4 linked regions of the Homo sapiens genome follow. The protein of the gene in region 3 purifies or fractionates together with the protein of the main gene of each other region. This does not show direct contact. Each region holds a gene or a part of one and is shown on either strand. Other genes may lie near its edges.

The links.
Region 1: the proteins of GXYLT1 (region 3) and FKBP14 purify together in Homo sapiens (affinity purification with mass spectrometry; 2 studies listed by BioGRID and IntAct, with this or other methods). This does not show direct contact.
Region 2: the proteins of GXYLT1 (region 3) and NGLY1 purify together in Homo sapiens (co-immunoprecipitation; 2 studies listed by BioGRID and IntAct, with this or other methods). This does not show direct contact.
Region 4: the proteins of GXYLT1 (region 3) and P2RX2 purify together in Homo sapiens (affinity purification with mass spectrometry; 2 studies listed by BioGRID and IntAct, with this or other methods). This does not show direct contact.

Annotation. Positions count from the first base shown.
Region 1 is NC_000007.14:30,023,681-30,030,618, reverse strand, and holds the start of FKBP14 (peptidyl-prolyl cis-trans isomerase FKBP14 precursor), read left to right. Parts: upstream 1-3,916; 5' UTR 3,917-4,110; coding exon 4,111-4,307; exon of another isoform or gene 4,308-5,232; intron 5,233-6,938. Other genes in the region: PLEKHA8 (pleckstrin homology domain-containing family A member 8), read right to left, coding at 1,817-1,856. UniProt on the Homo sapiens protein: PPIase which accelerates the folding of proteins during protein synthesis. Has a preference for substrates containing 4-hydroxylproline modifications, including type III collagen. May also target type VI and type X collagens.
Region 2 is NC_000003.12:25,731,434-25,738,459, reverse strand, and holds part of NGLY1 (peptide-N(4)-(N-acetyl-beta-glucosaminyl)asparagine amidase), read left to right. Parts: intron 1-1,004; coding exon 1,005-1,126; intron 1,127-2,059; coding exon of another isoform or gene 2,060-2,151; intron 2,152-2,310; coding exon 2,311-2,456; intron 2,457-4,477; coding exon 4,478-4,588; intron 4,589-5,976; coding exon 5,977-6,141; intron 6,142-7,026. UniProt on the Homo sapiens protein: Specifically deglycosylates the denatured form of N-linked glycoproteins in the cytoplasm and assists their proteasome-mediated degradation. Cleaves the beta-aspartyl-glucosamine (GlcNAc) of the glycan and the amide side chain of Asn, converting Asn to Asp.
Region 3 is NC_000012.12:42,134,863-42,141,888, forward strand, and holds part of GXYLT1 (glucoside xylosyltransferase 1), read right to left. Parts: intron 1-7,026. UniProt on the Homo sapiens protein: Glycosyltransferase which elongates the O-linked glucose attached to EGF-like repeats in the extracellular domain of Notch proteins by catalyzing the addition of xylose.
Region 4 is NC_000012.12:132,614,801-132,621,787, forward strand, and holds the start of P2RX2 (P2X purinoceptor 2), read left to right. Parts: upstream 1-3,975; 5' UTR 3,976-4,016; coding exon 4,017-4,189; intron 4,190-4,638; coding exon 4,639-4,774; intron 4,775-4,878; coding exon 4,879-4,950; intron 4,951-5,043; coding exon 5,044-5,119; intron 5,120-5,199; coding exon 5,200-5,296; intron 5,297-5,466; coding exon 5,467-5,547; intron 5,548-5,644; coding exon 5,645-5,783; coding exon of another isoform or gene 5,784-5,788; intron 5,789-6,200; coding exon 6,201-6,331; coding exon of another isoform or gene 6,332-6,454; coding exon 6,455-6,545; coding exon of another isoform or gene 6,546-6,564; intron 6,565-6,674; coding exon 6,675-6,740; coding exon of another isoform or gene 6,741-6,818; coding exon 6,819-6,987. UniProt on the Homo sapiens protein: ATP-gated nonselective transmembrane cation channel permeable to potassium, sodium and calcium.

The sequences.
Region 1 (6,938 bases), on a different chromosome or scaffold from region 3:
CAGCATCACGTAGAGACAGCTGTCTCTGGCAATGGCTCCAGTGCCCTCTTCTTCAGGGTTTCCACCCTAGCACCACTCACAGCATTAACTTCTCTTACTTTGGGAAGAAAAAAGTAGACTCTTTTCCAACAGAACAGATAGGAATCAAATAACAAAGATTCCAAAAGATCCTTCTAGAGAGTTCTGCTTTATTGAAGGATACACAAGGACAGTCAGCAACAACAACAGCAAAAGCATTTCACTACCAGGAAATAGTTACTGTATCAAGAGACTAAACTTTCTATATAGAAAGGAGAAGGAAAAGAGGGGGAAAAAACCCCACAAAACAACAAAAAAAGTTGGGGATGGGGAAGAATGGGAAAAAAAGAAGAATGTTGAAGATGAATGAAAAAAAGTGTGTGTAATGGAAAGGAGTGAAGGATCAGGAACTAAATTTTACTCAAGTATATGCATCTGAGAGCTTAGAGAGACCTCAGAAGGAAAACTGCCAGGTCGAGCCTCCTCCCCTTAGGTTAGCAGTGTTGATCAGCCTCTGTCATCCACCAAACCAAAGCCTAGCTTTGAGTTATTCTCATCTAATCTAATTGCAGACATCACTGAAGGTCCTTGACGCAAACAAGAAAAACCTCTTCTCATTTAGTCTCTATTAATGATTACAGAAAAAAAATAAACAGGTGAACTCACTGCTAATTACACTAAGCAAAGGGAAGAGATTCTGGGTACGCCCAATAGGGGCACCTTTGGCTGTGCTGTGTGACCTCCTCGAAGTTACTATGTATGCCAACTGATCCTCCCACACACACCCATTCTTAAAACACCCGGCGCATTACCATACTACAACCTTTTAAAAACTATCCCACAAAAGAAAGAAAACGTCTCTCACCCACTCTAAGGGATACTGGGAACATTTCTGCTTTCAAACACACTGCCTTTAAAATTTTAAAGACCTAATTCATTTTCTGTGATAAAAAGTTTACTTCCAAAAAAGTGGCTAGCACAGTTTCCAGCATATAGTAGGCTTGTATTAAATACTAGTTGCACACATGACAAAAATGATCGTTCTGAATAATTTTCACAGCTGTAGAACAGTTACAACCTTCTCAAGATATGAAGCTTTTACCTCCACAAACTAGAAAAAAAGGGCGGGGACTATTTTAAAGCCAATCTGTAAGGCACGGCAAGAAAGTTGCAAATATTTGCATTCATTTAACGGTAATTTCTGAGTCTGTAAAACAAAAGGAAATGCTCAACGAGAAAATAAAAAACCTTGTGCAGAGCTTTGAAACTGTGGAGTTGGGACTCTTGACACCCTGGTGTGCACGCAGATGACTCTGAAGGTGACAAAGGGAAAGTGTTTGCACTGAGGACTTTGATAAAGGATCTTTCCGCTGTGGAATTCCAGGTTACTGCTGGCATTCTTTTGAAACCTTCCAACCTAGCTGCGAGCCAAGGGAGTACGGTTCCTTCGCCAAAATTCAAGAGATTCCCAGAGAACCCCACGGCGGGGCGTCTGCGCCTTCCTCCCGCTGACATCAAGAGCACCGTGCCTTTCAAGTCACCCAAAATCTCAGTCTTTGTAGCCTTCCTTGAAGCGAAAGGGCAGCCACAGCTCTTAACCAACCCCAAGAGAGGGCCGTGTCGTCCTGCACGGCGACACGGTCCCGTGAGAGAACTGCTTTGGGAAATACTCCCGCTCCGCGCTGGCCTCAGGAAAGGGCCGTGACCCCCTCCCTAAGACGGGTCCAGACACCGCCCTCCAGCCGCGCAGACAAAGGACCGGCCCCCGGCGCGCCCCCGGCCCGGCACGGCCACTCACCGCTCAGATAGTTGGTCCACTTGTACAGCACCCCCTCCATGGCGCCCGCGGCCACTCGGCCCACGCCCGCCGGCCCCCTCACTGCCCCAGGCCCCAAGAGGCGAGGAGCACCAGCAGCAGGGCCATCGCCTGGCGCTGCCCAGACGCCCACTCCCGGCGCCCGGGCCCGGTGTGGGGACGCCCGGCCCGCCTCACATCCTCGGCCCGGGGGCGGGGTCACTGCGGCGGCCTCGGCGCTTGAAGCCCAGCCAGCCGGTGAACCCGTGGGGCGAAGCCGGCACGCTGTTCACAAGGAGGCCCGGGTCCGGGCCCTACGTGGGTCGGAGGGGCAGCCGAAGCCTCCAAAGTGCGGCGAACGAGCTGCCGGTCGCAGGCGGCGCCACGGCGCACCACCTGAACCCTCGACTCGCCGGGCCCGGGACGCGCTCGCGCATGCCCAGGGCGCCGCTCGCGCGCCCCTTCCCAAAATCCACTCCGGGATTTCGCGGCAGCGGCGGCGGGGCGGAGTTTGCGGGAACGGCCCGCAGGGAAATTGAGTCCCGAGACGCGGACTGCGGACTAGGCGACGGGAGGAGGGAGGCCCCTGAGACAAGTGTGGAGCGCAGTTCTGACTGTAAATGGTGCCCGCCGTTTGAGGGTCTACGTGACCTCTCACGATACCTCCTGAGTTCTAGTCCCTATTCTTGTTCCAAAGCTGCCTAATTGATCTCACACACTTGAGGTAACCAATAACAGGGCGTAAAGAGATTATTGGAATTTCAGGGTAGAATACTATGAGGCCAGTGTAAACAGATGTTGTCCAGACTCTAAGGTCTCACTATGGAAGTGTTGATCTACTGACCCGGAGCACTGACATCACCTAAGAGCTTGTTAGAAATGCAGAATCTTGCACCCACCCCAGACCTCCAGATCAAAATCTGCATTTTAAACAAGATCTTCAGGGGGATTCCTATGCACATAGAGTGCGGATATGCACTGTGTTAAGGTTATTAGACCAGAAAAAATGTTAACTACAGATTAAGTGGAAAGAGGAGGTGAGAAAAGACTACAATACGATTTAAATCGCTTTAAGTATATGTCACAGAAGCATGCACCAAAATATTAAGAGGATTGTTTGCGGCTGGTGGTGGTATCGGCGAGCTTTCTTTTTCTTTAAAGTTGCCTGATTTAGTAAATAAAAATGCAAAACCATTATTCGTTATGTATCTGAAATTCCAACTTGATTCGACTCCCCAATATTATCTGGAAATCTTACTTTAGTGCTTTCCAATTTCTTCCAAAATGACTTCAATGAACATGCATTACTTTTGAACTTAGGCAAAAAATGTAAAACTAGAAAATGTAAACTACGATGAGGCTGTGTAATTCGTAACCATGATTACCATTTCTTCTTTAAAGCGGAAGTCTGCAAGTCGAAACTCATTATTTACCCTGTAAGGTAACTTAAGGGATAAATTATTAGCAGCCATAACATGACGTGGTGCTGTGGAATGAATCAGACCTGGTTTGAAGGCAGAGCTCATTTGCTTCGGGGCCAAACAACCTTAAGCAGGACAGTTAATATCTCCTGGTGTAAATTTACTTCTCTTTTAAATGGGAAAAAAGAACCTGCCTTACTGGGTGTAGTGAGGTTCATGCAACGGGAACGCGCTTTGTGAACCCTCAAGCAGTATGTCAGTCTTTACAGTTTATAAGCAATAGCAAAATCCTAGGATTGTGGCATCTTGGGGGGCCGCTCTCCAACGGCGAGAGTAAACGAGTCTTTCCTGGAACCCCGAAGATTTCATAGGGCCCCGGGACTCTTCCTACGTCTCTCAGCAGGGTTCTTCACAGAGATAAATCAGCCGGAGGAGTTTCCGGTTGGCTCTGCGCCCCGCCCCTCTCCCAAAATCCACGCTGGTTGAATGCTGAAATCCACCGGGCTCTAGGACCACAAGGGATGATCCGCCGCTTGGCAGCTGCCCGGCTCTACCGGGCTGTAAATTCCATCGTTGCAGCGTCATTGGCTTGAGAGCTGCCTGAAGGACAGCACCAATAGCCAATGGGAGGCTGCTATTCCCAGGCGGCCGCGTTATAAGAGCCAGTCAGGCCGGCATTTGGGCTTAACTCTTTAAAGGTAGGTTCGTGACCCTTGAGAAAAGAGTTGGTGGTAAATGTGCCACGTCTTCTAAGAAGGGGGAGTCCTGAACTTGTCTGAAGCCCTTGTCCGTAAGCCTTGAACTACGTTCTTAAATCTATGAAGTCGAGGGACCTTTCGCTGCTTTTGTAGGGACTTCTTTCCTTGCTTCAGCAACATGAGGCTTTTCTTGTGGAACGCGGTCTTGACTCTGTTCGTCACTTCTTTGATTGGGGCTTTGATCCCTGAACCAGAAGTGAAAATTGAAGTTCTCCAGAAGCCATTCATCTGCCATCGCAAGACCAAAGGAGGGGATTTGATGTTGGTCCACTATGAAGGCTACTTAGAAAAGGACGGCTCCTTATTTCACTCCACGTAAGTAATTATGCCCCGCAGGTAAAATAGTAATTAAGAATCCACTCACTTATGCCAGCTCTCCAGCAGGAAAGGTGGCCTGTACCTGGTTTTGCCTCTTTTACAAAACCGAAATATCTTATTTCCTTCTTTGGGAAAGGAAATTGTTTAAAGCCAGTTTTATATAGCGAGCGAGGCCTTTGAAGGTCTTGTTGGAAACATGTGGTCTGGAAAAGGCTGTTAATTTTTTTTATTATACAAATTAGAACTAGAATCTTTGAAATATTGCAGAAATATATCTGGGTGTATAATTGGCCAATAAGTAGAAAAAGCCCAAAAGAATTCTCATATCTCAAACTCCATTTCTTAAAGAAAATGACTTGATTCCATTTTTAATGTGGTGTAGGTGATGTTCACCTAAAACTTTTCACAGCGACTTCAAAAGCAAACTACACTATCACTTATTTGCCTGTTGAAGGATATACTAATGCCGTTTCACTGACCTACTTCTTTTGTTCTGACGAATGGTATTTTGGTCAAGGCACAGGACCATGATTTCAGTCATTTGCTTCTTTCTAGAGAGTCAGACTTCATTGATGAGGTGGGTGTGGTTTTGGAAGTCTAGGTGAAGGATTTTCAGGTGGTTACACTATCATTTCTGTTCTATAAACGAAGAAATTGGAACATGGAAATGGTTTACAGCCTAATGATTTTCAATTAGGCATCGGTTCCATTCATTCCATTATGACAGTATTTAGTGAGCATTTCCTTGATGTTAAGCCATGTTCTGGGTGCTAGGAAGATTCAGAAATTTTGGCTTCTAATCATCTTCATCTATTCATTAGTCTGTCCATCTATCAAACTCTTATTGAATGGTCACAAGTCAGGTCCTGGAGACGCAAAGATGGCTAGAAGCAGGTTCTTGTCCTCTAACAGTATACACCATCTACAGGTGGGAGAAAGACAAGTAAATAATGCAATGATATAGGGTACAGAATATTCAAAGTGCTAGCAAAGCGTAACTGGGCCTGAAGTAGTTAGGCTCCATGGGGTGGGGAAAGGGAAAGACTTCCCAGAGACCATAATTGAAATGAACCTTGGAAGATGGGTGGAGGTTTCCAGGGGGAAAGTAGGGAAGGATGTTGTAGGTAGAGGGAATAACATGAATTAAAACAGTAAATCTTCATAGCCCATCCTCCACCTGATTTTCTAATAAACTGCCTTTACTGGGCATTCAGACCTGGTCTGTCTTGAGGGTTGGGGAAATGAATGGGGCTCTTCTCTAAACTGTTAGCCCTGGGAAAAAGTTCCAGAAAAATGGCTTGCCTTAGAATTCTCAACAGCCCTTTCTTCTTGTCAACTAGGTGAGTGCCACGGTGGATATTAAATGATGTGATTTGCATTTTGAAAATTCAGTTATATTGTTATTTTTAGTCTGATCTCTTTTAGACTCAGCCTGACTTCTTTCAGATTTCTGAACCAAAAACCTGTGCTGACTTTGGTGGTAGCCATGGAATATTATTTAGCAGTTTGCTACTAAGTTCTAATACCTGATGAGGGGACTGTTATCATGCAGCCTCCATGTAAATGGTCAGAAGCTGCTAACTGTAAACTTCATGAAGAAATACCATCAAATTGGCTGGGCGTGGTGGCTCACGCCTGTAATCCCAGCACTTTGGGAGGCCGAGGCAGGCAGATCGCGAGGTCAGGAGTTTGAGACCATCCTGGCCAACATGGTGAAACCCCGTCTCTACTAAAAATACAAAAGTTATCTGGGCGTGGTGGGCACCTGTAATCCCAGCTACTCAGGAGGCTGAGGCAGGAGAATCGCTTGAACCCAGGAGGCGGAGGCTGCAGTGAGCCAAGATTGCGCCGCTGCACTCCAGCCTGGGCAACAGAGCGAGACTCCGCTCTGAAGAAAAAGAAATACCATCAAATGATCAGTTTGTAAGCACGTTTGCCATCTCTAGAACCATAGCCTATGGGATAAATTGCTTAGCCCTAAGAAGAACTGTGCTAAAATTGTAGTCAGTGATGAGTAGTAGAATGTTTCCTGCTTCTTTTTTCATTTCTAGCCTTCCCAAATTTTCTACAGTTGGCATTTTGTTACTTTGATCATTGGGCAAAATTACAGGAAAAAATGGCATTACCCAGATTTAGTAACCATGGTACTCATGAAGCGTAGTACAGTGACTTCTTTTTCTCACCTACAAGATATCCTTGAATAGAATATTTTCCTTATTGCACTGAAAGGGAGCTAGGTAGGGATCAGGCATTACTCAGCCCTTAAGCCTCCCTGTATGTAGTTCGGCAGGTTGGTTTTCCTAGGCTAGACTCTCTTCAACTCATGAGCCAGGACATTCTATTTCCCTCGTCCCCAGTTGATAGGGTTCCGCTATGGCCCCACCCAATTCTCATCTTAAATTGTAGCTACCATAATCCCCACATGTTGTGGAAGGGACCTGGTGGGAGGTAATCGAATCATGAGGGCAGGTTTTTCCCATGCTGTTCTCCTTGTGATAGTAAATAAGTCTCACGAGATCTGATGGTTTTATAAAAGGCAGCTCCTCTGCACACTCATTCTTGCCTGCTACCATGTAAGACGTGCCTTTGCTCCTCCTTTGCCTTCCGCCATGATTGTGAGACCTCCCC
Region 2 (7,026 bases), on a different chromosome or scaffold from region 3:
CAGCTCTATCAGTTCAAAACCCATCTCAACACAAAATGCAAAATTTAGTGTTCTTGAATTGTCTGGTAATTTTATAATTGGAGTAACTTCTGAAAAGAATGTTACAAATAGATCCCAAAAAACAACTTCCAAATTAGCAGGCACCTTTAAATACTTCAAAAGAGTAAAATTTTAATCAAAATGATTATTAGAAAGAAAGATAATATTTTAGATAAAATTGAATTAAACTAAGCTAAAATTTTTGTTGAGTAATTTGTTAAAGTTGTTTACCTTTTAAATACAGTGAGCTAGCTATACCACTTTAGTGCTAATGCTTTAGGCAAATTGCCTAGAGAATTTGCTTCTCCAAATCTTACATTATTCAAAACACAGATCAAATAAAAGCTCTCCTCACCAGCCACTTTCTGACCTGTTGTATTGTTTGATCACTAATCTGACCTGTTGTATTGTTTGATCACATTCTGCCATATATTTAAATTATTTGTGTTCATCCCTTTCCTCAGGATTGTGAACACCTTGAAAGCAGTACTACCGTTTAATTATTTTTCACCAAATGTTCTAACATTGTGCCTCATATATTCTAGATTTCTAAATAAATATTTAAAAACAAATTAAAGGCCGGGCGCAGTGGCTCACACCTGTAATCTCAGCACTTTGGGAGGCTGAGGCGGGCGAATCACGAGGTCAGGAGATCGAGACCATCCTGGCTAACATGGTGAAACCCCGTCTCTACTGAAAATACAAACAAAATTAGCCAGACCTGGTGGCATGCACCTGTAGTCACAGATACTCTGGAGGCTGAGGCAGGAGAATCACTTGAACCTGGGAGGCGGAGGTTGCAGTGAGCCGAGATTGCGCCACTGCACTCCAGCCTGGGTGACAGAGCAAGACTCCGTCTCAAAAAAAAAAAAAAAATTAAACATTTCTGTTTAGCATAGAGGTAATGTAAATTCTCTTAAAAATCTTGATTTTGATAATTAAGGTTTTTTTTCTTTTTAAACCAGATATAATAACCCTGAGAAACTTTTGGAAACAAGATGTGGACGGTGTGGCGAGTGGGCCAATTGTTTTACACTGTGCTGCCGAGCTGTAGGGTTTGAAGCTCGCTATGTTTGGGATTACACAGGTACAGAATGTGGAATGAGCAGAGGGTAGTAGGGCTTTGCAGGCTTGCAGGTTTGGGTTTACATTCTGAGCCCATGATTCTCTGTTACTTTTTGGCCTTGTCAGTCTGACCTTCCATTTGCCTTGTGTAAAACAGTAATAATACCAACCTTCCAGGTTTTTTGAAGGGATCACAAGAGTTTTGTAAAACACCTAGCACTGTGCCTGGTGCTTTGCACTATAAATATTCCTTTTTTTCCCCTTTATTTTTTTATTGATGCATAATAGATGTACATATTTGGGGGATACTTGTAATGCATTTATATAAATTCTACAGAGCAAATCAGTATTATTGGGATGTCTGAGATCTTAAATATTTGTCTTTATGCTGGAAACATTTGAATTACTCTCTTCTAGCTATTATGAAATATGCAGTGGATTATTGTAAACTGTAAACACCCTATTGATCTATCAAACACTAGGTCTTGTTTCTTTTATTAGCAATTTACCGTGGCATTTATAGTGATGCTGTTTATATATGGATAAAAACATGTAATAATGTACCATAGAAATCTTCATTGCTATAGGGATTACTGTAAAAAATTTAGTAAACTATAAACTTAAAGCACAGTATACAGAAATAATAAAAGTCATGTGATATTTGTGTTGTCCCTATTTAGAAATAACTTGTGTGGTCTACATGTTAAAAAGTTGTTTTCCTTGTGTTTCCATTTTCTAAAGAATTAAATGAAACCTTCCATTAATAGTTAGTGTTCTCTTAAAATCAAATATAAAGCATGTATTGACCAGAGATTCTATTAGACTTCCTGCTGGTTCTGGGCCTTAAAGTCCAGAGAGAGAGACTGTAGTTTCAAAAGTGGCATTAACTCCTTCATGATAGTAAACTCAGGATGATATTTTTTATGCTGCTCTTTAATATGTCTACCTTCTTAAGAGTTACAGCGCACATTAAGCCTAAAACTGACCACGTTAAAGGAGATTGGAAAAACATTTTTAAGGATTTCAAAGAGACAGAAATTAATACAGGTATTCTAAAATCCTGTGTGCCACAAAATGCACTTATTAACTGAAATTCAGAATATTATGCATTACTTTATGATTCTTAGGAGTTTGTGTATAGTTATTGAAAGTCATTCTGATTTCATTGTCTTTTTTCCATTGCTCTCTTTTCTCTTACTTGAGTAGACCATGTCTGGACAGAAGTCTATTCTCCTTCTCAGCAGCGGTGGCTGCACTGTGATGCATGTGAAGATGTCTGTGACAAGCCACTCCTTTATGAAATAGGATGGGGCAAGAAGCTTTCCTATGTCATAGCATTTTCAAAAGATGAGGTAGAGCATAAAAGAAAAAAACTTTTTTCCAAAAGTAAAATATATTTTTTTCTTTTATGACAGCTTCATGAATGTATAATTAACATACAATAACCTGCATATATTTAAATTGTACAGTTTGATAAGTTTTATTTGTATACACTGAAATCATCACTGCAAATCAGTATTCATTGTATGGATGTGCCATAGTTTACCATTTCACCTGTTGATGGCTATTTGGGTAGTTCCCAGTTTTTTTCACAATTTCAAATTAAGCTGCCATGAACACTCAGGCACACAAGTCTTTATATGGGCATATGCTGCCTTTTCTCTTTGCTTAATGCCTAGGAGTAGAATGGCTGCATTATATGGTAGATATACATACAACTTTTTAAGAAACCACTAAACTATTTTCCAACGTGGTTGTGCCATTTTACATTTTCGCAAGCAGTATGTAAGTTTCCAGTTTCTCCATGTCCTTGCTAACATTTAGTATGATCTGACTTTTTAATTTTATCCCCTTTAATAGGTGTGTAGTGGCATTTCATTATGGTTTTTATTTGTACTTCCCTAATGACAAATAATACTGAGCATCTTTTTATGTGTTTGCTTACCATCCATATGTCCCCTTTGCTTATTTTTTTTAATTGGGTATTGTGTTTTCTTACTGTTTGGTTTTGAGAGTTCTTTATATATTCTTATATAAGTCCATTATCAGATATGTGCTTTGCAAAGATTTTTCTCCCTATCTGTAGTTTGTCTTTTTATGCTCTTAATGATTTTTGAAGAGAAGAAACTGGCGTTCAGTTTACCAATTGGTTGTTTTATGGATTGTGCTTTTTGATGTTATATTTAAGAAATTTTGCCTAGCCCTTGGTCACAATGATTTTCTCCTATGTTTTGTTTTAGAAGTTTTTTTTGGTTTTATGCTTATGTCTGCAATCCATTTTGAGTTAATTTTTTTATATGATCCAAGGTGTATGAAGTTTTTTTTTACATATGGATAATGAATTGTTCTAGCACCATTTATTGAAAAGATTATTTTTTCTCCATTGAATTGTCTTTCCACTTGTATCAAAAATCAGTTCTGTAATATAAATCTAATACAATAAAAATGGATAAAATTTTTATTTGTTGAATTTTGTGGAATCAGCTTTGCAGATAAATTTTAAAAAGGTAATGTTTTGAAATTTTCACTTTTTTATCATAGCGTTTCTGGTTAAACTATCAACTGTTTAGGAATGAATAAGTGACGTATTCTCTTCCGTTTATTTTATAGGCTTTTACGTTTTATTTTATTTTATTTTAATTTTTCGAGACAGTCTCACCCTCTTGCCCAGGCTGGAGTGCAGTTGCATGATCCCAGCTCACTGCAACCTCTGCCTCCCAAGTTCAAGCGATTCTCCTGCCTCAGCCTCCTGAGTAACTGGGATTACAAGCACATGCCACCACACCTGGCTAATTTTTTTTGTTTGTTTTTTTTCAGTAGAGACGGGGTTTCACCATGTTGGCCAGGCTGGTCTCCAACTCCTGACCTCAGGTGATCTGCTCACCTCAGCCTCCCAAAGTGCTGAGATTACAGGCATGAGCCACTGCACCAGGCCCCATGACTTTTAAATTTTAAACAAAGGATAGTATTCTAAAAATTGCATTTAAGGCTGGGCGTGGTGGCTCATGCTTATAATCCCAGCACTTTGGGAGGCCAAGGTGGGTGGATCACCTGAGGTCAGGAGTTCGAGACCAGCCTAGCCAACATGGTGAAACCCCATCTCTACTTAAAACAATACAAAAATCAGCCAGGCGTGATGGTGCATGCCTATAGTCCCAGCTACTCAGGAGGCTGAGATACGAGAATCTCTTGACCCTGGGAAGTGAGACTGCAGTGAGCTGAGATCACGCCACTGCACTCTAGCCTGGACAACAGAGCGAGACTTCGTCTCCAAAAAAATGCATTTAAAAATTACATACATTCTAGGTATTTAGTAAGTAAAGGTTGATGGTTGTAATCTTGTTAAGTATTTGTATTCTGTTATTTGTTTCAGGTAGTTGATGTCACTTGGCGATATTCCTGCAAACATGAAGAGGTGATTGCCAGAAGAACTAAGGTTAAAGAAGCATTACTTCGAGACACTATTAATGGGCTTAATAAGCAGGTATGGTGTGGCTATCTTTTTTGAAAGAACAGTTGACATTTTTTATGTAATCGAGAATAGCCGTTTATTAGCCTATTGAAATTCTTAAAGTAGTAGCATTGTTTTATAAACAAGAATATTTTAATATTCTTTTTGAATATTAAAGAATAAAAATATTCTTTTTGTTCATTGAAAATTTTGCGGACTCATTTTAAATATTATGAGTTATTTTGGATTAAACTGTCTCATTTCAAAGTTCTTTGAAACAAAATTTCAGTATTGGTAGTACCTGACAAAAAATGTGTTGTCTTATTTATCAGTGTAACTGTGCCTTGGATATGACACAGACTCATATTTATGTATTATGTATGTACATACACACACACACACACACACACACACACACACACACACACACACACACACGTCCATGTGAGGAAATTTCTGAAGCAAGGCACAGGAAGTTATTAACAATGACTACTTCTGAGAGGAGGAACTGGAGTTCCAAGATGAAAGGTTCAATTTTTGTTTTATACCCCTTTGATAGTATTGAAATTTTTAACTCTATACATGTGGGTTTTTTTCATAAATTAAAAAATAAGCAGTGAATTTTGCTGTAGCAGGCAGTTAGAACAGGGCAGAGCACATTAATCCAATCAGTGATAATGATTCCAGGTGAGGTTTCAGTCTATTTTGAATCTGCACTTACTCCTGATGTGTAGCCCTTCGGAGATCTCTACCTGAAAACCTGGATTATTTGCTAGATCCCCTTGCATTAGAACACTCTGACCCTCAGTTTATTTTTACCCCAGCACTGTGATTCTGCTAAAAATTCTGCTTTGATTTCCAGCACTTTAGTCACTATTTTGTCCTTGGCTTCTCAGCCTCTTCTCATGCCACTTAATAATTGACAAATGACTGGAAGGGAAAAGAGGTGCAGTATGTGCCCTTCACCTCAATTCTTTTCTTCTCTTGGAATCTTGACTTCTCAAGTTCTGGCTGCCTTTACAGCTTTCTGTTGCACTCAAACAGGTGTTTATATGTGAGTGTTCTGTTTGTGTGTTTCCACTAGCTTTTCTAGCTTTTCTCAGTAAGACATTCTGACACAAGCCAGTCTATCATATCCAGAAACAGAAGTTGCTACCTTCATTATAAATAAATCTAGGACAGTAGAGCTCATGGAGAGTTGGAAATAGGTGTTAAATGATTTCCCAACATAAAATTTATAAAATTATTTAAGTTTTCCACAGTGTCCTTTTTATTTTCTGAATAATATATGTTTGAAAATAAAATTCAGTACTTGTTTCAAGACCTCTTAAAATGCAAGTGTTTTAAGTATATTCTTGCTTAGAGATGGACCTATACATTCCCCTAATCTTAACAACTTTTTTAAAAAACATGAATTACAGAGGCAACTGTTTTTGTCAGAAAACAGAAGGAAAGAACTTCTCCAGAGGATAATTGTGGAGCTTGTTGAATTTATATCTCCCAAAACCCCTAAACCTGGAGAACTTGGGGGAAGAATATCTGGGTCAGTGGCTTGGAGAGTAGCCCGAGGTGAAATGGGTCTACAGGTATTTAATTCATTCTAGCATGATGATCCTTTTACTTTCCTGCTTCATATACTATGCTCTTCCTATACTATCCTCCAACTGCATTGACTATGACCTTTCAGTTAACTTGAGAGTAATTATTTTAAAATGCAAACATTTGAAGAGAACCAGTAATTGATTTACATAGCATTATCGTGTAAGAGTTAGCAAAGCATTTTTAAAATGGGACTTAAAATTTTTTTTACCTTATGTAAATTTTTAGTGCAGTGTAACTTTTACTGAAGAATATACAGGAAAATGCACAAATTATAAATGTACAGCTTAATGAATGTTTACAAATTTAACACCCATGTAATCGCCAACCAGAATAAGAAATAGATCACTGGAACCGTAGAAACAAGCGTGAGTTTCTTTCCCCACTGCCTTACACCCTCGAAAGTAATCATTATTCTGGCTTCTAACATCATATATTAGTTTTGCCTGTTATTGTGCTTTATAAAATGGAATCATATAGCATGTACTGTTTTGTATATAGCTTGTTTTGTGTAACTTTGTGTCAGTGAGATACATGTTGCAACGTGTATGGTATGTTCTCATTGCTGTATAATTTATTGTATGAATGTAATTTTTCACTGTTGATGGCTATTTGGGTTATTTCTAGTTTTGGCTGATATAAATGGTGCTGCTCTGAACATTTATATTCACGTTTTCAGTGAATATGTTTAGGCATTTTGTTGGATGTATACCTAGGAGTGGAATTGCTAGGTAATAGAGTATGAGTATATTCAGCTTTAGTACATATTGCCAAACAGTTTTTCAAAATGGTTATGCCAGCTTATACTCTCACCAGCAGTATATGAAGTTTTTCGACATCTTTGTGTACACTTGGTATTGTCTATCTTTTCA
Region 3 (7,026 bases):
GCCCATCTTCTTCTCAGGAGTCCTTAAAGACCTTCTTGCATCAATTAGTCTTTCTTTCTCCTTAACTGGCAATCTCTATTTGTGTAGTAGACTGTATTACTGTTCAGTTATTCACTCCCCACATTTAACTGTAAAAGGATTATACAACCCTATTCATTACCATGGGCCTTGCCTGCCTGATAAGGGAGGCATATATCCCTGCATCATTTATTGACTTTGACCTTATTCAAGTGACTTGCTTTGGCCAAAATAATATAAAAAGACATGATACTGTGGCATCAAAGTAGAAGCTTCAAATGGGACTGTGTTGTTCAATCTGGCTTCTTGCTCATCCACTACCACAAGACCAGGCATATCCAATGTATGGATTGCTCCTTTAGCTTGGATCCCAGGATGAGAAGATATATCAAGCAAAGTCATAGCCATAGACATGTAATGTGTGCAAGAAATAAATGCTTGCTATTGTAAACTGTTTAGATGTATGGGGTTGTTACAAAGCAAAGCAGAATAATACAAGCATAATTCCCTTTTAAAGTGTGTAATTCAATGGTTTTTCGTATATTCAGAGTTGTGCAACCATGACTCACCAATTAAATTCCTCAGTATATACTCAAGAGAACTGAAAACATGTTCACAGAAAAACTGTCCATGAATGCTCAGAGCAGCATTATTCATAATAGCCAAAAAGTATGAAAGAACTCAAATGTCCACCAAATAATGAGCAAAATGTGGTATATCCATACAATGGACTATTATTTGTCCATAAAAAGGAATGAAATATAGTGATACACGCTACAGTGGATAAACCTTGAAATATTATGCCAAAAAGAAAGCCAGATTCAAAAGGCCACATACTGTGTGATTCCTTTATGTAAAATGCCCCAAACAGGCAGACAGAAAGTAGACTCGTGGTTGCTCATGACTGGGGGACTGAGGAGTGCAAGGTGGGAGTTACTGTTACTGGATACAGGGTTTCTTTGGGGGGTAATGATTTACTTCACAAAGGTTTAATGCAGTCAAAATTGGATAGGAAAAATCAAGTTATAGGTAAATTTATTGATCATAATTCAATGTCAAAAAACACATAGTATATAGGAAAGATGTTTTTCTTTCTTTACTGGAAATATAAGAACACATGCACTAGTGAATACATATGCTGCATACCATTAAAAAATCATAAAACACTTAGGTATTGCTGTAAGGAATGAAGTAATTTGTTTATAGTTTTTTAACTCCCAAATATCTATTCTCCCATTTTGAAAAACTGGTTTGGGAGATTTAGATAAAGAGTAGAAACTCACACTGAGAACTTATGACATATCAGTGGCTTATTAGAAGCAATAAGATAAATTAGCAAAAGCAACTCATCTGAAGACAGCACTTGCACTTTTAGGCCAAAAAGAAAAATTAAAGTTTGAAAATACTGGAAAAGTAAAGGTAGTTATCCAGGTTCTGGCTATTAGTTGCTTAAAACTGTTGAAAGCAGAATATTAAACATCCAACATTCAAAGAGGTAACTCTATTAAATAATTTTAATGAGGCAAAGCATTAATATGAGTTAGGTGGGTATGTCTTCACTATACCCATACTGACATTCAAAAGCACTGAAGTCCTAAAAGGGAACTTTTTCACTGTGGATCAAACTGAAATAAAATGTTACTATGGCTCATCCTCAAGTTTAATAAGGCATAAAGCATCTAGCTCTAGGTAGCTTGTCTACAACTGACCAAGGGGTAGCACAAGGTACCTTTGCGGTGATGAAACAATTCTGTATCCTAATCCTAATTTTGGGGGTGGTTACATGTATTTACATGTGATAAAACAACACTCGGCATAATAACATTTGTCAAACTTGAAGTTTACTTAAAACCAATTACAGGAGGTTTTTTATACATACATACATACATACATACATACATACATACAAACAAACACACACACACACAAGTCGCCCAGGCTGGAGTTCAGTGGTGCGAACACGGTTCATTGCAGCCTCAACCTCCTGGGCTCAAGCAATCCTCCCACCTCAACCTCTGGAGTAGCTGGGACCACAGGCGCACACCACTATGCCCAGGTAATTTTTTGTATTTTTGTTGTTGTTGAGAGAGTGTTTTGCCAAGGCTGGTCTAGAACTTCTGGGTTCAAGCAATCCACCCACCTTTGCCTCCCTGCTAGGATTACAGGTACGAGCCACCATGCCTGGTTGTACTTTTAAGTTAAACTAGAAAAAGTAATTTTCATTTCAAAATGTCCAAGATAGGAGGCTTCAGTGAAAACTATGCAAAACTTACCAAAGAGTCAGTGATACGAGATGAGCCTGACCAACATGGTGAAACCTCATCTCTACTAAAAATACAAAAATTAGGCCAGGCGCAGTGGCTCACGCCTGTAATCCCAGCACTTTGGGAGGCCGAGGCAGAAGGATCACAAAGTCAGGAGATCGAGACCATCCTGGCTAACACAGTGAAACCCTGTCTCTACTAAAAACACAAAAAATTAGCCAGGCTTGGTGGCATGCACCTGTACTCCCAGCTACTTGGGAGGCTAAGGCAGGAGAATCGCTTGAACTCAGGAGGCAGAGGTTAAAGTGAGCTGAGATCGCGTCATTGCACTCCCGCCTGGGCGACAGAGCATCTGTTTCAAAAAAAAAAAAAAAAAAAAAAGCGGATCACAAGGTCAGGAGATCGAGACCATCCTGGCTAACACGGTGCGGTGAAACCCTGTCTCTACTAAAAATACAAAAAATTATCTGGGCGTGGTGGCAGGCGCCTGTAGTCCCAGCTACTTGGGAGGCTGAGGCAGGAGAATGGCGTGAACCCGGGAGGCGGAGCTTGCCTTGAGCCGAGATCATGCCACTGCACTCCAGCCTAAGTGACAGAGCGAGACTCCATCTCAAATTGAAAAAAAAAAAAAAAAGTCAGTGATAAATTTAGGCATATTCAGCATAAATATTTGACAGTATGAATGAAGTGCTGCTGCAAAGCAGTAATGCAACTTCAAGGCATGTATACCCTCCCTGTGACTGTGCAAGAAAAGCAAAGATGCTTACGGACACATTAAAGGAGGCCATTCCCATGATACTGCCAAATCACTACTATTTAATTTTCAACTAAATTGTTTCCAAGTCGGGCGCAGTGGCTCACGCCTGTAATCTCAGCACTTTGGGAGTCTGAGGCAGGCAGATCACCTGAGGTCAGGAGTTCGGGACCAGCCTGGCAAACATGGGGAAACCCTATCTCTACTAAAAATAAAAAATCAGCAAGGTGTGGTGGCATGCGCCTGTAGTCCCAGCTACTCAGGAGACTGAGGCAGAAGAATCGCTTGAACCCAGAAGGTGGAGGCTGTAGTGAGCCGAGAGAGTGCCACTGCGCTCCAGTCTGGGTGACAGAGACTGCGTCTGGGTGACAGAGACTGCGTCTCAAATAAATAAATAAATAAACAAACAAACAAATAAATAATTTCTAGACAACTTAACTTCTAGCTCTAAGTAAGATCTTCTTTTTCTTAAATTTCTAATTTCATTAATCCTTGGCAAGTAGGAAAAGGACTGCTTATATATAAATGACACTGAAACAATCATCTACCCATTTCAAAGAATAAGTTAGCATCACACAATATACCTCCTCTACCAGCCCCCAGCTCCCCCACAAAGCTGGATTGATTTAAATCTAAAAAAGGGAGGGGAAAAAAACTGGTAGAAAGCTTTCCTATGCGTAATAAAGGTAAACACGATAAAGTAAAAAGTAGCCAATCTGAAAACAAAAATCATAAACCTCATACAGTACACACATTATGAACAAAATTTAAGTTTATACGTAGGGGAAGTACTTCCAATAGGTATGGCATATAGATAATGATCTTACTGCTTTAAAATAAGATTTTCTAGGCAGGGTATGGTGGCTCATGCCTGCACTTTGGGAGGCCGAGGCAGGTGGATCACCTGAGGTCAGGAGTTCAAGACCAACCAGGCTGGCCAACACGGTGAAACCCCGTCTCTACTAAAAAATACAAAAAGAAAAAAACAAAAAAAGCTGGGCAGTTGGCACACACCTGTAATCCCAGCTACTTGTGAGGCTGAGGCAGGAGAACTGCTTGAACCCGGGAGGCGGAGGTTGCACTGAGCCAAGATCATGCCACTGCACTCCAGCCTGGGCAATGGAGCGAGACTCTGTCTCAAAAAAAAAAAAAGCCAGGTGTGGTGTGCACGCCTGTAGTCACAGCTACTCGGGAAGCTAAGGTGGGAGGATCACTTGAGCCCAGAAGGTCAAGGCTGCAGTGAGCCATGATCTCAGGCCACTGTACTCCAGCTTGGGTAACAGAGTGAAACCTTGTCTCAGAAATAAAAAAAAAAAGATTTCTAAATCAAAAGTACATATTATTTTTTCATCAACCAAGTAACTTTCTCCTCCAAAAGCACAGAATATTTTAATTAATTAATTACTAGTATTTATTAATATGTGTCAGGTTTGGACTAAGAATTTGCTATGGTCTGAATGTGTCCCCTCAAAATTCATATGTTGAAATCTAATTACTAACATGATGTTAGGAGGTAGGGCCTTTTGGTAGATGATTAGGTCATGAGAGCAGAGCCCCCATGAATGGGATTAGTGGGGGGCCTTATAAAAGGGGCCTGCCTCGCCTCTTCTACCATGTGAGAACACAGGGAGAAGGCGCCATCTATGAACCAGGAAATGGGTCCTCATCAGACACTGAATCTGCTGGTACCTTGACTTGGATTTCTAGTCTCCAGAACTGTAAGAAATAAATTTCTGTAGTTTCTAAGCTCTCTAGTCGATGGTATTTTGTTATAGCAGCCCAAAGAAACCAAGATAACCCTTCACAAATATGTAACGTAGATACCACTATGATCCTTCAATGACCTAAAATACAAAGTATAGGGCACTGGTTTTATGTAAGATGTTTTTGCAATAACAAAGCAGAGATTAAAGTGGCTTTAGTAAGTAATTCAACTTTCTTTACTGTTCACTGACTCAACTCTCTTCTTCAAACATAACTGCAGAAAAAAGGGGGGAAAAGGGCTGGGCACGGTGGCTAATGCCTGTAATCCCAGCACTTTGGGAAGCCGAGGTGGGCGGATCATAAGGTCAGGAGATGGAGACCATCCTGGCTAACATGGTGAAACGCCGTCTCTACTAAAAATACAAAAAATTAGCTGGGCATGGTGGCAGGCACCTGTAGTCCCAGCTACTTGGGAGGCTGAGGCAGGAGAATGGCATGAACCCGGGAGGCGGAGCTTGCAGTGAGCTGAGATCGCACCACTGCACTGCAGCCTGAGTGACAGAGCAAGACTCCATCTCAAAAAAAAAAAAAAAAAGGCGGGGGGGGGGGGACTTCACTAAAAACAGTAGTGTGAAAATAGTGCCCAAACTATTCTCAATTTTTGGTTTTATAACAAGCTGGAGCACATATCTAAAACATAAATTCCTGGACCCCACTGCCAGGGCATTTTGATTTAACAGGTCTTAACTGGAGCCCAATGACCAGAATTTTTCCCAGAGGTCAGAAATTGGAAGAAAAAAAAAATCCCAACTTAAAATTTAAATTACCAAAATGATATTAGCTAAAATGTTGTTGTGTCAGGCACCATACTAGGTACTCTGTATCAGCTATTTAATATTTAATTTCAATTCTCACAAACAATATCATACTGTTCTCTCTGATGACGAAAACAAGTTCAAGGTCAACACAGTAAGTGGCAAAGCTGAAGTCTGTCACTCCAAAACTCTTACTTTCTATTCTTTAAGTTCTCAGTATATAACACTAGTATTCCCAGGATCCAGCAGAAATGACAACTCTATGGCCTAACCAGATCTAAAAAAGAAAGTGAAATAATTACCTCCCTGTGTGACAAGGAGACACATAAGGAGACTCCAAGGGCTTGATGGGTCCAGAAACGGTATCACTGAAACATTTAGTAATTTCTTGATTCCCCACTACCAATACTGCTGTATAGCCACAGGTAAAATTTTGATAATCAATGTCAGGACTCATCAGTGAAATATGATAATTTAATCATCCTGAGTAACTAAAATGCAACAAAGTGGTATGAATTAGTGATGTCCGGTAATAACTACTGCTTTCTGTCAAACACCTTAATACAGTCTGTCCACACTGAAGAGCTTGAGTATCTCCTTCTAGAACAGCCACTGCCTATCCAGCATTCCTTCTCCTTTGAGGCACCGCTCCTCTCCAACACCAATCATGTTATTCTGTCTGCCACAGGAATGTGCAAGTGACACAGAGTCAACAAATCAGAGTTCCCCATCCCAAGTAACACTGACTGGTCCACAAACGGGCATGCAACCCAGGCAAGTCCAATGACAGCCTTTTCCTAGGATTTTGTATTTGAGATTAGAGAATAAAACCTGCAAGAACAGAAAAACCCCATGAACAAAGTTTTGTCTTTACTGGAAAAGACTCCCCAGTCCTTAAGGTCCTTTGAGCTGCCCTGCTATCTGCAGTTTTTCCTTCATTTCAAAAACTGTATAAGCCTATAAATATGTTTTGCTTGAGATAGTTTTACTGAATTTTCATCAAAGACAACTAAGAATTCTATTACAAATTAAGTAAGGTAATCTAATGTACAGCCTGATGACTATAGTTAACAAAGTGTACAGTATACCTAAAATGTGCTAAGACAGTAGATCTTTAGTGCTTTCACCACAAAAAAAAAAACCCTATGTGAAGTGATGATATTAACTAGCTTAACTGTGATCATTTCTCAATGTATATGTATGTCAAACTATCAAGTTCTATGCCTTAAACATATAGTTTCTATTTATCAATTATACCCTACTAAAGCTAAAAAAATTTAAGTATTATCTACATTTTACAGGTGAGGAAATTAAAACACAGGCATGTGACACAATTTAGGCAAAGTCTCACAGCAACCAGAGCCAGAATACTGAGAACACGGGTTTATCTGACTACAAGACCCATGTATTTTCTGATTATTAAAATCATGGCTTCAAACAGAATACACTAACGGATAAGAGATTCCACTGA
Region 4 (6,987 bases), about 90 Mb from region 3:
TCCACACAACCAGCACCTCACCACCACCAAGAATTCTAATGGAAACTTTCTTCAGTGAAAACTAACTTCATTTATTTCAAGGCTGGTGCTAATTTTGGTTGTTGACTGCTTTGGCCTCCGATTATGGGAGGTATCCTGGGTGGGAACTGTCAGGGGAAGCTACTTGGAAGGCAGGACTGAGCCGGACCAAATTGCAAGATTCAAACCAGTGAGGAGGCCCAACAGCGGATTCTCCACAGACCCAGCAGAAGCTCTCGGGGGCTGGAAAAGGGCGCCACCTGGTGGCATCTGAGCAGAAGTCAGTGACACGTTTTCACCCACATGTCAGTACAGCTCCCGAAGCAGGTCCAGCGGAAAAGCTCCGGTATGAAGCTTTTCCCTTTACAGTGTGCTGTGAGGGTGTGTAACCACAGTTAATGGAAAGGGACCTCACTGGACTCAATCCAGTGACATCACACATGCCGTGTCTCCCACCCACAGAGAGAACTCCCAGGTCTTGAGTATGTGATGCCTGGAGCCTCATCTACCTTCTGAAGGCATCGTTCAGGCACGCTTTACATATGAGCAGTGTTTGGATTATTAATTGGAAAGGTCAGAACACCGTTTCAGCGGGTATATGAAAGTGATAGCAGCGGTGTCTGGAACATAAAGGAGAGTGTGTTTGTCCACTCTTCCTAGGGACACAGGGACGGGGACACTCCCCACTCTCCCCTGGGACACGGGAATGCTCTCCACTCTCCCCTGGGACACAGGGACGGGAACACTCTTCCCTGGGACACATGGGGACGCTCCCCACTCTCCCCCGGGACACAGGGGGACACTGTCCACTCTCCCCTGGGACACACGGGGACACTGTCCATTCTCTCCCGGGACACACGGGGACGCTCTCCACTCTTCCCTGGGACACACGGGGATACTCTCCCCTGGGACATATGGGCTGTCCACTCTCCCCCGGGACACACGGGGACGCTCTCTAGTCTTCCCTGGGACACACGAGGACTCTCTCCACTCTTCCCTGGGACACATGGGGACACTCTCCAGTCTCCCCTGGGACACATGGGGACGCTCTCCACTCTCCCCTGGGAGTTCCAGAGTGACCGTCATCGTGAAAAATGACAGGGATTGATGTAGTTTCCTGGCTTTTGACATTAACCCACAAACCCAACTACCACTCTGGGTTTTTCCTAGAGCGTAAGCCTTAGCTGACGCCATCCACACATTATGGTGCTGTGGATTTTCCTGTAATGAAAAGGAAAAGATTCAGACAGCAGGAAATAAGGGGCCAGGGGGAGGCTAAGGCTGTCATGATGGCAGAGAAGTCTCAACCCATGATCTTGGAAAAGCTGTCCACATTTAGGATCCCGTCTGCTTCTGGGGAAAACTTCCCTGGTTAGCTTCACCTTAAGGTCTCCGAAAGGTGTACGGTTCCAAGAATCTGGAGGGGTCTTTTTGAGTTTGGGGTTAGCCGATTTTTCTAAAATGTGCACAAGTTCTGGGTCCATAGTTCTTACACACATAATTAGCAAACGTCCCAGAAGGCGGCACGCAGACTCCTTGGATTCAGACAAACCCAAGCCAAAAGGGACCTACTCAAGGCCTCTAACTGGATACAATAGAGTTAAGTTTTGGATCCAATTCAATCCTGGACCCATTCCGGTCTAAGAATTGCTCAAGGCCGGGCGCCGTGGCTCATGCCTGTAATCCCAGCACTTTGGGAGGCCAAGGCAGGTGGATTGCCTGAGCTCAGGAGTTTGAGACCAGCCCAGGCAACACAGTGAAACCCCGTCTCCACTAAAATACAAAAAAATTAGCCGGGCGCGGTGGCATGTGCCTGTAATCCCAGCTACTTGGGAGGCTGAGACAGGATAATTGCTTGAATCTGGGAGGCGGAGGTTGCAGTGAGCTGAGATCACGCCACCGCACTCCAGCCTGGGCAACAGAGTGAGACTCCATCTCAAAAAAAAAAAGAATTGCTCAAAGTAGAGGGCTCAAAACACATGGTCATAGAGCACAAATCCAGCAGAGAGAACTCACCTATGACTCTAGATGCTTTGAGAGATCAGCAGGCACACAGGCCCTACTGAGCATTCAGTGCTCCTAGGGGGTGGCTGGAGGTCTACTTCAGATCCCACTTCTGACACCAAACTGTTAAAACAAAAACTTTGGACAAATTAAATTTAAGAGTTTGTGTGTGTGTGTGTGTGTGTGTGTGTGTGTGTGTGTGTGTGTGACAGAGTCTCCCTCTGTCATGCAGGCTGGAGTGCAGTGGTGCAATCTCAGTTCACTGCAACCTCCACCTCCCAGATTCCAGTGATTCTCCTGCCTCAGCCTCCCGAGTAGCTGAGATTACAGATGCCACAACACCTGGCTAACTTTTGTGTTTTTAGTGGAGACGAGGTTTCGCCATGTTGGCCAGGCTGGTCTCGAACCCCTGATCTCAAGTGATCCACCCATGTTGGCCTCCCAAAGTGCTGGGATTACAGGTATGAGCCACTGTGCCCAGCCAACAGAGTTTAATTGAGCAAAACACAACTCATGAATTGGGCAGCACTCAGAACCAATGGGGGAGGTTCGAGAGCTCCACTCTGTAATGTGGGCAGGAAGTTTTTATAGATAGAACACAGAAGTGAGATACAAAAAAAAAAAAATCACAATTAGCTTGATTTTGTTACTGCTTGAAATGTTTGCCTTATATGGCATGATCAGATCAGTTAGCAGCCTGTGACTGGCTGAGACCCAGCTATTTGTTCCAAAATATACTCATAGGTTAAGCTTTTAGCTTGTTTCTGTGGTACATTAGGTTGCAGTTTGTTGTTACCTAGAAACTCAAGGCACAGAGGCAGCCTGTTAATTGAGTTAATTTAACAGTTCAAACAAATACTTATGCACCAGTGTTTATAACAGCACTATTCACAGAGTTAGTTTGAAAGCAATCTAAATTCCTTCTTTGGATAGCCTAGACATTTCTCCTGGCCATAAGAAGGGGTGATGCCCTGACACATGCTACAATGTGGATGAACCTTGAAAACATGCTCAGTGAATGAAGCCAGACAGAAAAGGCATTAACCCAGAAACAAATATTGCATTTCCTTGATATGAAATATCCAGAACAGGCAAGTCCATTCACTGAGACAGAAAAGCGACCAGTGGTTGCCAGGGCATGGGAGGAGTGTGGAACGGGTCGTGACTGCTTAATGGATGGGAGTTTTATTTTGGGGTGGGGAAAGTGTTTGGGGACGAAACAGAGGCGGTGGTGGTTGCACAATGTTGTGAATGTCACTGAATTGTTTACTTTAAAATAGTTAATTACATGCTATGCTGATTTTATCATAATAAACTATTTTAAAATTATTTTGTGAAAAACTGTGATGCTTGGGATTTGCTTCAAAATAATGTGGGTGGGGTGGAGGTTCGAAAAGTTACCAAAAAAAAAAAAAAAGAAAGAAAGAAAGAAAGAAAACTCTGGCTTGCAAAGAAGAAAACGGATCGGCCGTGGATCCCTCTCCAGCTCGAGGGCTGGAGCTGCGGCGGAGGCAGGAGCTGGAAGCGAGGCGTCTGCTGGCAAAGGCGGGAGTGCAGGTTGCGCTCGAAGCCCCGGCAGCCGCGGCAGGAACCGGCCTGGACGGGGTGGGGGGCGCCGCGGAGGCCGGCGGGACTTCCCATGTCTTTCTCCTCGAGCTCGGAAAAAGTTCCCACCCGGGGAATCCCGACCCTCCAACTTCGAGACCGCCGGTTCCGCGCTCGGCCCCCACCTGGACCAAGAGCTGGGGCTGGGCTGCCGCGCCCCCGGCTCTGTCCCCGCGAGGCCCCGCTCCCAGCCCCACCTGGGACACCCGGGACTCCCGGGACACCTGCGGGGCGGGGCGGGGCCGGGGCGAGGCGGGGCGGGCTCGAGGCCGCACCCCGGAGGCGGAGCCGCGAGCTACCCGCCCGCCGCGCGCCCCCCGCTCTCGGTGCGCAGCGGGGCCGACCCTCAGCCCTGCAGCGCCTTCCTGGAGGTGGGGGCCGCCCGCGCCATGGCCGCCGCCCAGCCCAAGTACCCCGCCGGGGCGACCGCCCGGCGCCTGGCCCGGGGCTGCTGGTCCGCCCTCTGGGACTACGAGACGCCCAAGGTGATCGTGGTGAGGAACCGGCGCCTGGGGGTCCTGTACCGCGCCGTGCAGCTGCTCATCCTGCTCTACTTCGTGTGGTGCGCGGGGCGCGGGGTGCGGGGCGCGGGGTGCGGGGCGCAGGGGAGGGGCTGGGATTGGGGGCGCTGGGCTGGAGGCGCGGGGCTGGGGCTGGGGCTGGGACCGGGGGCGCGGGGCAGGGGCTGGGGCTGGGACCGGGGGCGCGGGGCAGGGGCTGGGATTGGGGGCGCGGGGCAGGGGCTGGGACTGGGGGCGTGGGGCAGGGGCTGGGACTCGGGGTGCTGGGCTGGAGGCGCGGGGCTGGGGCTGGGACCAGGGGCGCGGGGCAGGGGCTGGGGCTGGGACCGGGGGCGCGGGGCAGGGGCTGGGGCTGGGACCGAGGGCGCGGGGCAGGCCCCAAGAGCCCCGCAGAGCGGACCCGGGTCGCGGGAGGGCCCCTGCCGTGCCTGCGGGCGGGACTCAGCCTTCCCAGGGTCGCCTCCGGAGCCGGCGCCGCCCCTGCCCGCAGGTACGTATTCATCGTGCAGAAAAGCTACCAGGAGAGCGAGACGGGCCCCGAGAGCTCCATCATCACCAAGGTCAAGGGGATCACCACGTCCGAGCACAAAGTGTGGGACGTGGAGGAGTACGTGAAGCCCCCCGAGGTGCGGGCCGCCCCCTGCCCCCCGCCCCGCCGTGCACCCTACCCTAGTGGGCGGAGGGGGCAGCGGCTGCCGCCTGGCCGACCGCCCCCTCTTTCTGAGCCCAGGGGGGCAGCGTGTTCAGCATCATCACCAGGGTCGAGGCCACCCACTCCCAGACCCAGGGAACCTGCCCCGAGGTGAGGGGATCCCGCGGCGCTGGGGGACCCCGCCTCAGCTAGGCGGGCCAGCTGTCCCTTGCGGGGTCCCTGACTGGGCCGCCTCCACCCTAGAGCATAAGGGTCCACAACGCCACCTGCCTCTCCGACGCCGACTGCGTGGCTGGGGAGCTGGACATGCTGGGAAACGGTCGGTGTGCGCCAGCTGGGGCTGGGCGGGTGGGGCAGGGCTGCGTCCCCGCTAATGCCTCAGTGACCTCTGCCTCCCAGGCCTGAGGACTGGGCGCTGTGTGCCCTATTACCAGGGGCCCTCCAAGACCTGCGAGGTGTTCGGCTGGTGCCCGGTGGAAGATGGGGCCTCTGTCAGGTGCACCTGCGCCCCGGCCTGGGGCCCAGCCTCCCCTCTGATCCTTTTCCCCTGACCAGAGGCCAAACGGGCGGGGCAGGAGTGACAAGATCTGGGGAGGGGTGGGGGCCAATGCCAGGCGGGGGCTTTGCGGGAAGAGGGGACTAAACAACCCTTCTGTGCCTCCTCAGCCAATTTCTGGGTACGATGGCCCCAAATTTCACCATCCTCATCAAGAACAGCATCCACTACCCCAAATTCCACTTCTCCAAGTAAGAGCCGCGGGGTGTGGTGACGGCCCAGCCTGAGGGCTGCCTTCTGGGAATGGGGTATTTGGGGTGCAGGTCTCGCCTCCTGCCGCCTCCTCAGGGGCAACATCGCCGACCGCACAGACGGGTACCTGAAGCGCTGCACGTTCCACGAGGCCTCCGACCTCTACTGCCCCATCTTCAAGCTGGGCTTTATCGTGGAGAAGGCTGGGGAGAGCTTCACAGAGCTCGCACACAAGGCAGGGCAAGCGCAGGCAGGGTGGGGCCAGGGTGGGCTCCCACCTGCACAGAGAGGGCCTGGGGTACAGGGGACCAGTCCCTCCTCCCTCCTGACCAGCTGGCCCCGCTCAGGCAGAGGAAAAGAAATGCGATCAGCGCAACCCATCCGGTGTGGCGCTTGCTGAATTATTGACACTGGCCATGGGGCTGGCTGCTGGCACCCCTTGTGCCTCAGACACTGGACGCCCACCAGTACCCCTGAGCTGCCCCATGGGCCCCTCAGTGCACACCTCACATGCAGCCTGGGACTGACCCGGGCTCTCGAGGGGCCTCTCGTGTGCCCTTGTGACCCCCTTCCCTGGCCTGGGACTGACCCGGGCTCTCGAGGGGCCTCTCGTGTGCCCTCCTGACCCCCTTCTCTGGCTCCTTCTTGGCAGGGTGGTGTCATCGGGGTCATTATCAACTGGGACTGTGACCTGGACCTGCCTGCATCGGAGTGCAACCCCAAGTACTCCTTCCGGAGGCTTGACCCCAAGCACGTGCCTGCCTCGTCAGGCTACAACTTCAGGTGCTGTACTTGGGACACCGCTGTCCACACTGGCATAGCTGTGGTGGGGTCCCGAGAGGCCCAATGCCTGTGGGGCAGCCCTGGAGTGCAGAGGACGAGTGGGCACTGGCGTTCCCATTGCAGGTTTGCCAAATACTACAAGATCAATGGCACCACCACCCGCACGCTCATCAAGGCCTACGGGATCCGCATTGACGTCATTGTGCATGGACAGGTGCCTGCACCTGCTGGGGGTGGGTGGCCAGCCCTGCTAGCCTGGGTCTGAGCTCCTCACGCCCCACCCCTCCCTTAAGCCCCATCAGACGCCGTCAGACATTCTGACCACGACCCCCATTCTCCCCAGGCCGGGAAGTTCAGCCTGATTCCCACCATTATTAATCTGGCCACAGCTCTGACTTCCGTCGGGGTGGTAAGGAACCCTCTCTGGGGTCCCAGCGGGTGCGGGGGGTCCACCAGGCCCTTACACACCGGTCTCTGCTGGCCCCAGGGCTCCTTCCTGTGCGACTGGATCTTGCTAACATTCATGAACAAAAACAAGGTCTACAGCCATAAGAAATTTGACAAGGTGTGTACGCCGAGCCACCCCTCAGGTAGCTGGCCTGTGACCCTTGCCCGTGTATTGGGCCAGGCCCCTCCCGAACCCGGCCACCGCTCCG